Linked DNA regions of Homo sapiens: region 2 is linked to region 1. Evidence: fine-mapped expression QTL. A gene starts in region 1. The other region holds a variant in brackets. All regions are shown on one strand. Distances are from middle to middle.

What was found. PIP is the estimated chance that this variant, and not a neighbour inherited with it, causes the effect.
Region 2: its variant is fine-mapped to the expression of UCK2 in cerebellar hemisphere (GTEx, PIP above 0.99). The same link has a PIP of 0.9 or more in cerebellum.

The regions. Positions count from the first base shown.
Region 1 is chr1:165,825,030-165,830,405 of GRCh38, forward strand. It overlaps UCK2 (uridine-cytidine kinase 2), which reads left to right and starts at 2,585. Exons shown (of 7, transcript NM_012474.5): 1 at 2,585-2,903. The coding sequence starts at 2,805. RefSeq lists silencers at 2,374-2,623, 2,704-3,183, 3,244-3,473 and an enhancer at 2,939-3,492.
Region 2 is chr1:165,900,855-165,906,230 of GRCh38, forward strand. It overlaps UCK2 (uridine-cytidine kinase 2), which reads left to right. Exons shown (of 7, transcript NM_012474.5): 5 at 2,328-2,425; 6 at 5,067-5,115. Among named protein-coding and RNA genes, the nearest start is that of MIR3658, 4.4 kb to the right of the region's middle. RefSeq lists a silencer at 1-132. The variant C/A (reference allele first, on the strand shown) is at 2,814.

The DNA.
Region 1 (5,376 bases):
TGAGACATTATCTCTTTTCATTTGTTGAGGCCCTACAAGGTGCCAGAACCGTTCCAGGCGTTGGGGATATAGTAATTAAAAACAAAACAAAACAAACCAAACAAGAAATGTATAAGCCAGTGTGGAGTAAGTCAATTAAAATTAACAAAGCAAAAGGAAGTAAGTCCTATAATAAAAATGCCTTGATGGATAGAGGGATGGGTAGATGACCAGTTATGTTTTAAAGCAAGTATATATATAGTACGATGTTAGTGATAGAGTCTAGGTGGTGGGTATACTGGTGTTTGCTGTAAAATCTTTCAACTGTGCTCGAAAATTTTTATGATAAAATATTATGGAATAAACACTATAGGAATGACAAGGAAGATGCAGATTTGAGAAAAGTTTATGAAAGACATGGCATTCTTTTTTTTTTTTTAAGAGACAAGTCGATAGAGGAGTGCAATGGCATGATCACAGCTGCAACCTCGAACTCCTGGGCTCAAGTGATCCTCCTGCCTCAGCCTCTGGTGTAGCTGGGACTACAGGTGTGCACTACCATGCCCAGTTAATTTTTGTACTTTTTGTGGAGATGGGGGTCTCATTATGTTGCCCAGGCTGGTCTCAAACTCCTAGCCTCAAGTGATCCTCACTCTTCTGCCTCCCAAAATGTTGGGATTACAGGCATGAGCCACCCCACTGGCCTTTGGCATTCCTTTATCCTCCTCCTCTTCTCCTTAACTACCTAATATCCCCATGCTAACCCTTAGCTGTAGGTTCAACTTCCAAATTCCAATGGGCTATAAAGAGTTCTACAAAAGTCCATGATGACTAATAAATCTATCTAGTAGAGAAAAGACCTTTTGGAGAAGAGGCTAACTCTAGGACCACCTAAAACTCACCCACTCCATAGCTATTTGGTAAGGCACCCCTTTAGGAAACTTCACCCAAATGCCTGCTTCTGGGTACCAGGTAGTGGCCACTCTCCCCATCTTTGTCTCCTGTCTGAGCTGCTACCGAGTTTGATGTTAGATGGTGACATAAAATACAGTAATTCCTAGATATATGCGGAGGGACTGGTCCCAGGACAGCCTACATGTAACCAAATCCACACATGAAGTCCCACAGTCAGTCCTGAGGAAACTGCACAAATATTGTGTTTTCCATCTGCCCTTGGTTTAAAAAAAAAGCTGCATAAAAGTGAACCTCACAGTTTGAACCAGTGTTGTTCAAGTGTCAACTTTAATTTAAAAGTGAAAAAAGTTTGTTTTCTCTGGTATCCTTTTTTTTGTTTTGTTTTGTTTTTGTTTTTGTTTTTTGACACAGGCTCTGGCTCTGCTGACCAGGCTGGAGTGCAGTGGGGAGATCATGGCTCACTGCAGCCTCGATTTCCCTGGCTTGAGAGAAAATTATTTTTTTCAAAATAATCTTCAATTTAAGGTAATTTACTAAGTTTCAAAAGATAATGCTATTGACGTAAATTCTGTTTTAGATTGTAGGCCCCATCAGCTCATTGATACTAGTCCCAAGTTCACAGGAGAAGAGACTGGAAGTTACTAGGCTAGTCCTGCCTCTCTCAGGTGTGTCCCAGCAAAACTTTTCTTTCCAGTTTCAGCGCTTTAGAAACCTTTTCTCTTCAAACACTAATACAGGGCCTAGACTGTACCAGCACTGTTCTGAGAACTTTACATACACTAATTCATTTAATTCTCACAAAAATCCTGGGATGTAATTGCCATTATTATTCCCATTTAACAGATAAGAACACTGAAGCACAGAGAGATTAAGTAACTTGCTCAGGGACCTGGATGTGAATGCAGAAATCTGGCTCCAGAGGTGGAGTCTGAAACTGCCTTTCTAAGTGACTGATTGCCAATCTCTGGAAAACCGTTCAATTGAAGATATTAATGGATCAAAATGTCAGTATGTTTTCAGATACCCTAACTCCATAGGAAGCTCAGTGTATGGGATGAGATACTGTGGTTTAGAAGGGAATTGCTTTTCCAACGGAGGGCACCCTTCAGATAAGCCCCTCAAATTGCCCTTCACTAGAGAGTCGCACGAGGACAGGCCTGCTAAAAAGGATGGCGCTGGGGGGTTTCCAAGACAGGAAATATCTAAAGCCAGCGGCTGACATATTATCTTGGCGAACGGGAGAAGGGAAAAAGAACCCTCATTTTTTGGAAACACAAGTTTTTAGCCTGGATAATGGGTAAATGACATTAACTCTTCGTTCCACACTAATCTTTCAAGCTTGTTCAAATTTTGCTTCTCAAACCTGGGCCATTCCTTCTTATCTAATCTGCCTATTATTTCCTTCAAGCTTTTTATCCCTTCTGAAAATAGGTGGTAGCATACCAAATTAAAATACAGAACAGCCTGTTTCTTTCCCCCAGGGTCCACTAGGGCGCGTCGGAGAAAGGGTTAACCGGGCGGGTGGGAGGGAAGGTCGGGCTCACACCTTTCGCAGAGACCTCGGGCGGCGGCGGGGCCCGGGAGGGGCGGAGGCTGGGGCCAGACGCCTCGCCGCCTCCGCCTCGGCGAATAGCAGCGCGCTGCCCGCCCGGATTGGAGCAGCAGCATCACGCTGACCTCTGCCTGGGATGTAAACCGGACCAGCCGCTGCGGGCAAAGGAAGGCTCTTGGCTCCTTCGGGAAACCCAGCCCCGTCACCGGGCTCCGAGCGGCTCGCAGGCGAGCGACAGCGGCCTCAGCCCCGGCAGCGCCCAGCGGCGGCTGCGGAAAGCGGAGGGAGTCCGACGCGGGCGCGGGCGGGGAGCGTGCGTCCGTTCGCACAGGCAGCGGGAGGAGGGGCGGCGCGAACCATGGCCGGGGACAGCGAGCAGACCCTGCAGAACCACCAGCAGCCCAACGGCGGCGAGCCCTTCCTTATAGGCGTCAGCGGGGGAACAGCTAGCGGCAAGGTACGGCGGGGCCCGGAGCCGCGCTCCCTTCCCGGCTTCTGTCCCTGGGCGGCGCATGTGGCCGGCGGCCGCGGGCCGTGTCAGTTGCGGCAGCCACCGCGTGGCCCGCGCGCCTCCGCTCCCGGCCGCGCTCCAGCGCCGAGTGCGCCCCGCGCGGCCTGGGGGCGCTGCGGCGGGGGCAGGCGAAGACTCGGGCCTTGGGGGTTCCGGGGGTACGCGGCCACGATCGCAGGGCGGGAGTGCTCCTCCGGCTTTTCTCCCCCCGCGTTAATAACTCGTGGCCGGGGTCCTATGGGGGAAGGGCAGGGAAGCGGATGCTTATTGTTTTGCAACTCCAGTGTCGGGGGAGAGGGCTTTCCGCAGGATCCCCCACTAACCCCCGATGGACTCCCTCAAGCCCCGGTCTGGCACAGACGTGCTCGCCCCGCGGCGCAGCCTGGTGCCGAGGGCGGAGCGAGCCGGGAAGCGCGGCCGAGAGGGCGAGGGTGGCGGGAACGCGCGAGGCGGCATCCCGGGGAAGGGGAGCCCAGTGTGGGGCTGCACGCAAGGGCTGGGGATTACAGGGGTTTCCGGGTAAAAGTCTGAGAGCCAAATAGGTGCCGTGACATCAATGAAACGATAATAGTAGGGGCTTCTGTTTTTTAAGGTTATAAGAGGAAACGTGGTCGGCTTCAATGAGAAAGTTGTACTGGCTCCAAGCTCTTCGGTGTCCAGGACGTACGCGTCTTGGATCCACGGAAGGGGGTCATCGTATGGGTGTCTGACCCTCTTAGGAGCCTGTTTCCTTTGTTTTATCCGCAAGGCAAGGAGAGACAAGGGAAATGACTTCCTAGCTTTACCCGGGGTTTTTTCTGCAGGTGGAGAAGGGTGGAGTCCTCCCAGATGGTTCTTTCTTTGCTCCCCTAACAGCCTTTAAGATGTGGCTACTTGTTTTTCCCACCGTTTAACACCCTCCAACTTCATTTGGAGCACGGGTTCCTCAAGGGATCCTGAGAGCTGGGTGCTGGGTGCTGGTTTGGAGAGGCAGGATGATGCTTCTCCCGGCTGGGGAGAGCAGAGCAGGAAGGCTGGTTGGCGCCATGAGGAAAGAGCCACGAGGTTTTAGCTCCCGAACCGACTCGTCAGTAGCCCCTCCTCCATGTTGGTTTTACATTTTTCCCTCCTGGTCTGGACTACTTTAGCGCAAGGAGCCCAGCCAGACACGGCGGCTGGCGCTGCTGGACTTCTTTATTGATGAAGTTGATCTCGTCCGTAGCTCCCGGGGTTAGGAATCGGCCTGCTTTAGGTCCTGAAGTTTCTGTTCTGTGTGCTCCCTGGTTGAAGGCTTTTAAAAAAATTTGTAATTTTTGAGTATGTTCTTTACTATGACTTATACTAGTAATTCAAAGCAAAACCAGAATGCTAGCCCTTCAGGAAGCTTTACCTGTTCTTTTAGAATTATTCTTGCTCTTCTGGCATATTCCTGTTGGATTGGGAGCATTTTTTGTTGTTGTTGTTCATGGCTGTTTTCCCAGCCCTCCTAGCACAATGCCTGCCTGGCATGTAGTGGGGTCCAAATTTTAAGCTGAAGTCCAGTCCTCCTAAAGTGGGGAGGAGGCTTAAACTTGCATATGAGCTTTTAGAAACAAAATGATCTTGGTAATCATCTGAATAATTTAGTTACCACGAGGGTGAAAACTGCGACCCTAAAAGGTGAATAACTCTGTTATTGTTCTTCTTGTGTGTTTCTCAGTCGTCACCTGTTCTAACTTGATAATCAAGCTTTTGGTGTTACTTGGGTAAAGTGAGGGATGGGATAGTGGTGAGCCAATGTGGGAGTAGCTAATTCTCTGCTATTTTTATCCAGGAGGAAGAGTGTAGAAACTCTCAAGAAAGGAAGGGTCCGTTTTTCTGCAGTTTTCAAAGCATGTTGTACATTTTTATTTATTAATTTAATTTTTGAGACAAGGTCTCGCATTTCCACCTAGCCCAGAGTAAGTGGCACTGTCACAGCTCACTGCAGCCTCAGCCTCAACCTGGAGTAACTGGGAGTACAGGCTGGCACTATCATGACTGGCTAATTTTTTTGTTTGTTTGATTTGTTTTGTTTTTGAGACAGGGTCTCACTCTTTTGCCCAGGCTGGAGTGCCGTGGTGAGATCTTGGCTTACTGTACCCTCCACCTGTTGGGCTCAAGTGATCCTCCCACTTCAGCCTCCAGAGTAGCTGAGACTACAGGCTTGCACCATCATGCCCGACTAATTTTTTTTTTTTTGTAGAGAAGGGGTTTTGCCATGTTGCCAGGCTGATCTCAAATGCCTAGACTTAAGTGATCCGCCCGCCTCTGCCTCCCAAAGTGCTGGGATTACAGGTGTGAGCCACTACCTGGGCTGGCTTTTTAATCTTTATTTTTTTTATTATTTTTTTTTTTTGAGACAGAGTCTTGCTCTGTTGCCCAGGCTGGAGTGCAGTGGCATGATCTCGGCTCACTGCAA
Region 2 (5,376 bases), 76 kb after region 1:
TTTGCAGGGCTTTAAGTAAAAGCTGCCCAAGCACGGGTGTGTTTGTTTTTTCCCTAGCTCTGATACCCTTTTGATCTGGTTTCCTTTTTTCTTTGGGCTTTATCTGGAGACGTGTGAAGAATTGGAGGCCGCGCTGGCTGTGTGTTTTGGCGGTGCTACTCTGGTTAGCCATGTGTGCCGGAGCTCTGGGGACTTCTGGGGGGTGAGCCACGTGGCAGCTCCTTAGGGCTCCTTCTTAGCGAGTCTCCCAGCAGATCTGCCAGAGCAGCAGGTCGGCAGCAGGAGCCCAGGTCCAGCGTTGCAGGGGTGGGGAAAACCATTTCCTGGCTGGAGAAGGCTGCTGCTGGGCTGGGTGGGCAAGTCCTGACACATTAGCGATCAGCCAACTGTTTTATTACCAGGTCTCCCATGGAGAAAACACTTCGTAAATCGAGGAGCTGTTACAAAAGTCGAATGGCAGCATCATTAGTGCCCAGCTTTCTGGAAATGTGGATTTCCTGACAGTTTTCTCACCTTCTCATCTTATAGATTTCCTGTCAGCCTGGATCATAGCCATGACAGCCTCCCCGTTCCCTGGCCTCTCTGTGCATGCACCTGTGCATGTGTGTATAAAGACAGAATTATTTAGACAAATGGCTTTCAGAAGTTCCGTCACAGATATACCCCATGTTCGTTTACAGTGAGTTTCACCCAACATTTGAGTCTATTTACTGAGAAATGGTTGGGAAGGAGCTGAAGAGCCACTGCAAATGATTGTAGATGGATGTGGTAACTTTTTGGGGTGAAAGATTTAGCAGCTCAGATGATAAGGTTAGATTAAGATAGCATTTAAAATGACATCTGCAAAGAGAGGCAGTTTTAATTAAGAGAATCTACTTCCAAACTCCCTACTCATGGGGAAACTAAGGCTCATGTACAGCGGCAGAATGAGGGTGATCAGTCTTCTTTCTATTTATTGACAGAAGACTCTATTTAATAAAGAGTGTATGGGCTGCCTATAATTCCAGCACTTTGGGAGGCCGAGGCAGAAGGATCACTTGAGCCCAAGAATTCAAGACTAGCCTGGGCAACAAAGCAAGACCCCGTGTCTACCAAAAAAAAAAAAAAAAAAGGCTCACACCTGTAATTCCCAGCACTTTGGGAGGCTGAGGCGGGTGGATCAGGAAGTCAGGAGATCGAGACCATCCTGGCTAACACGGTGAAACCCCCATCTCTACTAAAAATACAAAAAATTAGCCAGGCGTGGTGGCAGGTGCCTGTAGTCTCAGCTACTCGGGAGGCTGAGGCAGGAGAATCGCTTGAACCCCAGAGGCAGAGGTTGTAGTGAGCTGAGATCGCGCCACTGCACTCCAGCCTGGGTGACAGAGTGATGAGACTCTGTCTCAAAAACAAACAAACAAAAAATTAGTCCATTGAGGTGGTGTGTGCCTGTAGTCCCAGCTACTTGGGAAGTTGAGGTGGGAGGATCACTTGCTCAAGCCCAGGAGGTTGAGGCTGTAGTGAGCTATGACTGTGCTACTGCACTACAACCTGTGTGACAGAGCAAGACACCTTGTATTAAAAGAAAAAAAAATTTTTTAAAGAAAAAAAAAAAAGAATGGTAAAAGCCCCTGGATAAAACTGACCGGGGGAAGAAGGTAGAAGACAGAAGATGGTGAGTTTGTTGTCAATTTGGGCTTCATCTCAGCCCCAGCCCACCATTCTCTAGGCCATGGTTTTCTTATCTTTCACTGAGTGATTTTTTTTTTTTTTTTTTTTTTTTTTTGGCAAACCTCTGTGCATGAGGTAGGTGGAAATGGTTAACCATGGCTGGGTCCTCAGCCTGGCCTGGGCTCCATGCTGCAGAGGGGGCATGGGTGGGAGCTGGGAGCAGTGAGCTGATGCCTGATCAGTGGGTCGCTGGACTTCTGAACGCAGGTAAGTGCATGCAAGGAGGCAGCGTGCAGCCCAGCCCTCTCGGGGCCCAGATTGCTTCTTGTTAACAGTGAGCTCTCCAGGAGTGCCCTGCTTTTTTAAAAAATTCACACTGAAATTTTGTTTGGAGCAAATGTTGCTTGAAACAAGAAGGCTGTTGGCCTCCATGGACAGCCTTTTGTTTCAAAGAGCATTGTGTCATTGCCAAGTTTGACCATTGTAAGATGTCAGAATGTAACTTGTCTTTTCCGAAGCCGCTGCTGATCTGCTCTTGGTCAAGCCTCTCAGGATTCCAGCTTGAGAATCATCTAGAGTAATTGTGGAGCCTGTGGGAGCTAGGTCCACCCCATGAAGGGCGGGTGTGTGCTGGCTCCTACACCGTTTTTTGATTCTTGTTTTCCCTTCTCTTACAGTATTAAGGGACATCAGCGAGAGAGGCAGGGATCTTGAGCAGATTTTATCTCAGTACATTACGTTCGTCAAGCCTGCCTTTGAGGAATTCTGCTTGCCAGTGAGTTGTGTTCTTGGTTTGTTTTTGTTGAATGTAGAATTTAAAATTTGATGATATAAACGAAGGTGTGCAAGTTTGTGGAGCTCCCCTGCCTGAATCTCACTCCTCTCTCTGAGTGATCCTCTGTCCTGAAGTCCTAAGAGAGGGCAGCCCTTGGTCCTTGTGTCCTCTGTGTTCTCCAGGAGCCCTGTCCTGCTGTTCTTTCTTTGGGTAGCCCTGTAGGGTCCTGCCAGTCCTTAGGCAGGTCATTTAATTCCCAGCTAGTTCTAGGTTTCTTGCTTGGTGGGGTCATGGTGTGAGACCGTTTACTGAGGGTGTATCATATCCAAGGAGAGTCCTCAGCCATTTGGATCTCTGAAGGGTCTGCAATGGGTGACGTATGGATGCA[C/A]TGGGTGCTGTGCCCCGAGATGTTCCCCTCTGAGCCTCTCCTGCCATCACCACTGAGCCCTGCTTTGAGCTTGTCTTTAGCTCCCATTTGGAGACTGTCATGCCTTACTGGAATAAGCTTCCTTCCCTTCACCCTTGCAGACTCACCAGTCCTTCCTGTGGCAGCTAGGAATTCTCTAGTGAGGTGGCTTTCAGAGAAGGAAGAACACAGAGAGTTGGCCCTCAGCCCAGGAAAGACAGGAAGGGGCATGTTGAGGGAAGGCTACCAGAGACAAGAGGTGTGGTGTGCTGGGGCTGCAGAAGGAGAAGTATTTAACTCAGGAGAATCCTACTGAGTCAATGAGTCTTCTCCAGCTTGGCCAAACCATGGTCTGGCTCCTGAATTATTTATAGTTAAGCTCTGAGACCGGGAGGAAGGGAAGGAAGAGCTTGGGACTTAACCTGGTCTTGGTTGAGATACACTGGGAAGGCTGGAATCTCTGAAGACATTGAAGATTTAGAGTAAGGCTGGGTATTGGAATTTCCCTATTTATTCTAACAATAAACTTCATTCTTTTTCTTCTGGGAAAATATCTCAAACTGTCTTTGTTTCTTTAAGGATGTTACTAGCTTTTACAGCAACCCATACTTGACTTTGGTTTAAATGCGGGACAGGTGGACTTTTTGAGCCAACTGAGTAACATTGATGCCCTATCCATTGCCCTGGAGACTATTGAGTTACAAGAGTAGGTTACTGGAAAGAGACCAGAGGGGGCTGAGGAGCTGTGAACTTCTTTCCACCCAGTTATCTATCTGAGGACCTCTCCTGTTATTTTTGACTTAATAAGAACACAAAATGAATTTATTATTGGATATCAGTCATATTTAACTGTCAGTTTTCTACGTTTAACTTAGTTGTAACAAAGCTAAAAATTCTGCAGACGTTTTCTGGGTTATTTCTGCTTGCTTCCACTGTCCAGCCACTCTTTGCTCAGGGAAGATCAGCTCATTCCCCTGTAAGCCAGGAACTTGGACCTGATAAATGTCTGCTCAGTTCAAGTTGGGTTTGGGGCTGACACCGTTGCCTTTCAGCAATCCTAGGGCAGAGGCTGCACAGAGTAAGATGCCCACATGCTTGAGGTGTGGTTTATGTGTTCTTATGCTAGACTTAGTTTGTATGCCAGGATGCAGTTACTTGTAGAATGGTCTACAAAATCTCAGTAAATTTGGACCAACAAAAAAGAAAAAGAAAAAAGAAATATGCCTCTTTGTGGCCTGACTTTCTTTCTTTAAAAATTGGGTAATAATAGAACCTATGAACTGGTCATCAGTGAAGAATACTTTTTCTGGTTTTACCCTGTGCTAGGAGTGAACAGTGTCATGTTTCAGACTATGTGTAAAAGTCCAAGGTGAACCAGTCCCCTGGAAAGTTTGGGTTTTTCTAGTTCATATTTGTCCTAGTGGAATAGAGGCAATTAAGTGTTTGGCTTCAAAGACCATGTTCTCTGCATAGGTCATAAGCTGAAACAGTGTTCAGCGTTAGAAATGAGAACTTGGTTGGGTGCAGTGGCTCACGCCTGTAATCCTGGGACTTTGGGAGGCCCAGGTGGGTGGATCGCTTGAGCCCAGGAGTTTGAGACCAGCCTGGGCAACATGGCGATACCCCCTCTCTATAAAAAATAACAAAAATTAGCTGGGTGTGGTGGCGGGTGCCTGTAGTCCCAGCTACTCAGGAGGCTGAGGTGGGATGATCTCCCCAACTCAGGAAGTCAAGGCTGCAGTGAGCTGTGATGATGCCGCTGCACTCCAGCCTGGGTGACAGAGTGAGACGCTGTCTTAAAAAAAAAAGAGAGAGTGAGAGAGAATTTGAATAAAAGCTAAATTCTTGTAATGTAGATAAAGTGGATAAAAATCCATGGTAGATAGTTATCAATCGAATTATGAACTGGTTTTGGATTAACCACTCAGTCTGGACCATTTTCCCTCACTGATGCATGAAAGTCTTCAATCCTTCTTTCTCATTTTCCTCATTCCCTGCTTATCTTCTTTCATTCACATTTCAGCTAAACAAGGCACTTCCTTAGGTTTCCCCAAATTTCTATTAATAGATGCATTCACTGTGAAGTTGTAAACAATATTATATTTGAAGCCTTAAAAGGTGCTCTTCTGGGCTCGCTAGTATGAATGCTGCCCTTTCCCCATATTCCCTTGGAGAGGGTCTCGGGCCAGTTGTCTCTTAACTGTATTAATGCATATTAACTGTCTTTCTCCACAGACAAAGAAGTATGCTGATGTGATCATCCCTAGAGGTGCAGATAATCTGGGTGAGTCCCTGCAGAGTGTCATCCTGGAGTATAATGTCTGCCCTTTGTCAGTCATAATTTGGGGCAGGATGTGGTGACCCTACAGGGCTCTGCAGACATGGCTGCCCTGCTTGTCTGTGATTGTGAGCCAGCAGAACCTTTCCACCTACACGTCTGGCCTCAGGAACAGGTCCCTGGGTGTAGGCACCCATGTGTTACGGGGACAGACATGCACTTGTGCTTCTCTGGCAGAATAGAGGGCTGTAGATTACCTTTTACTAT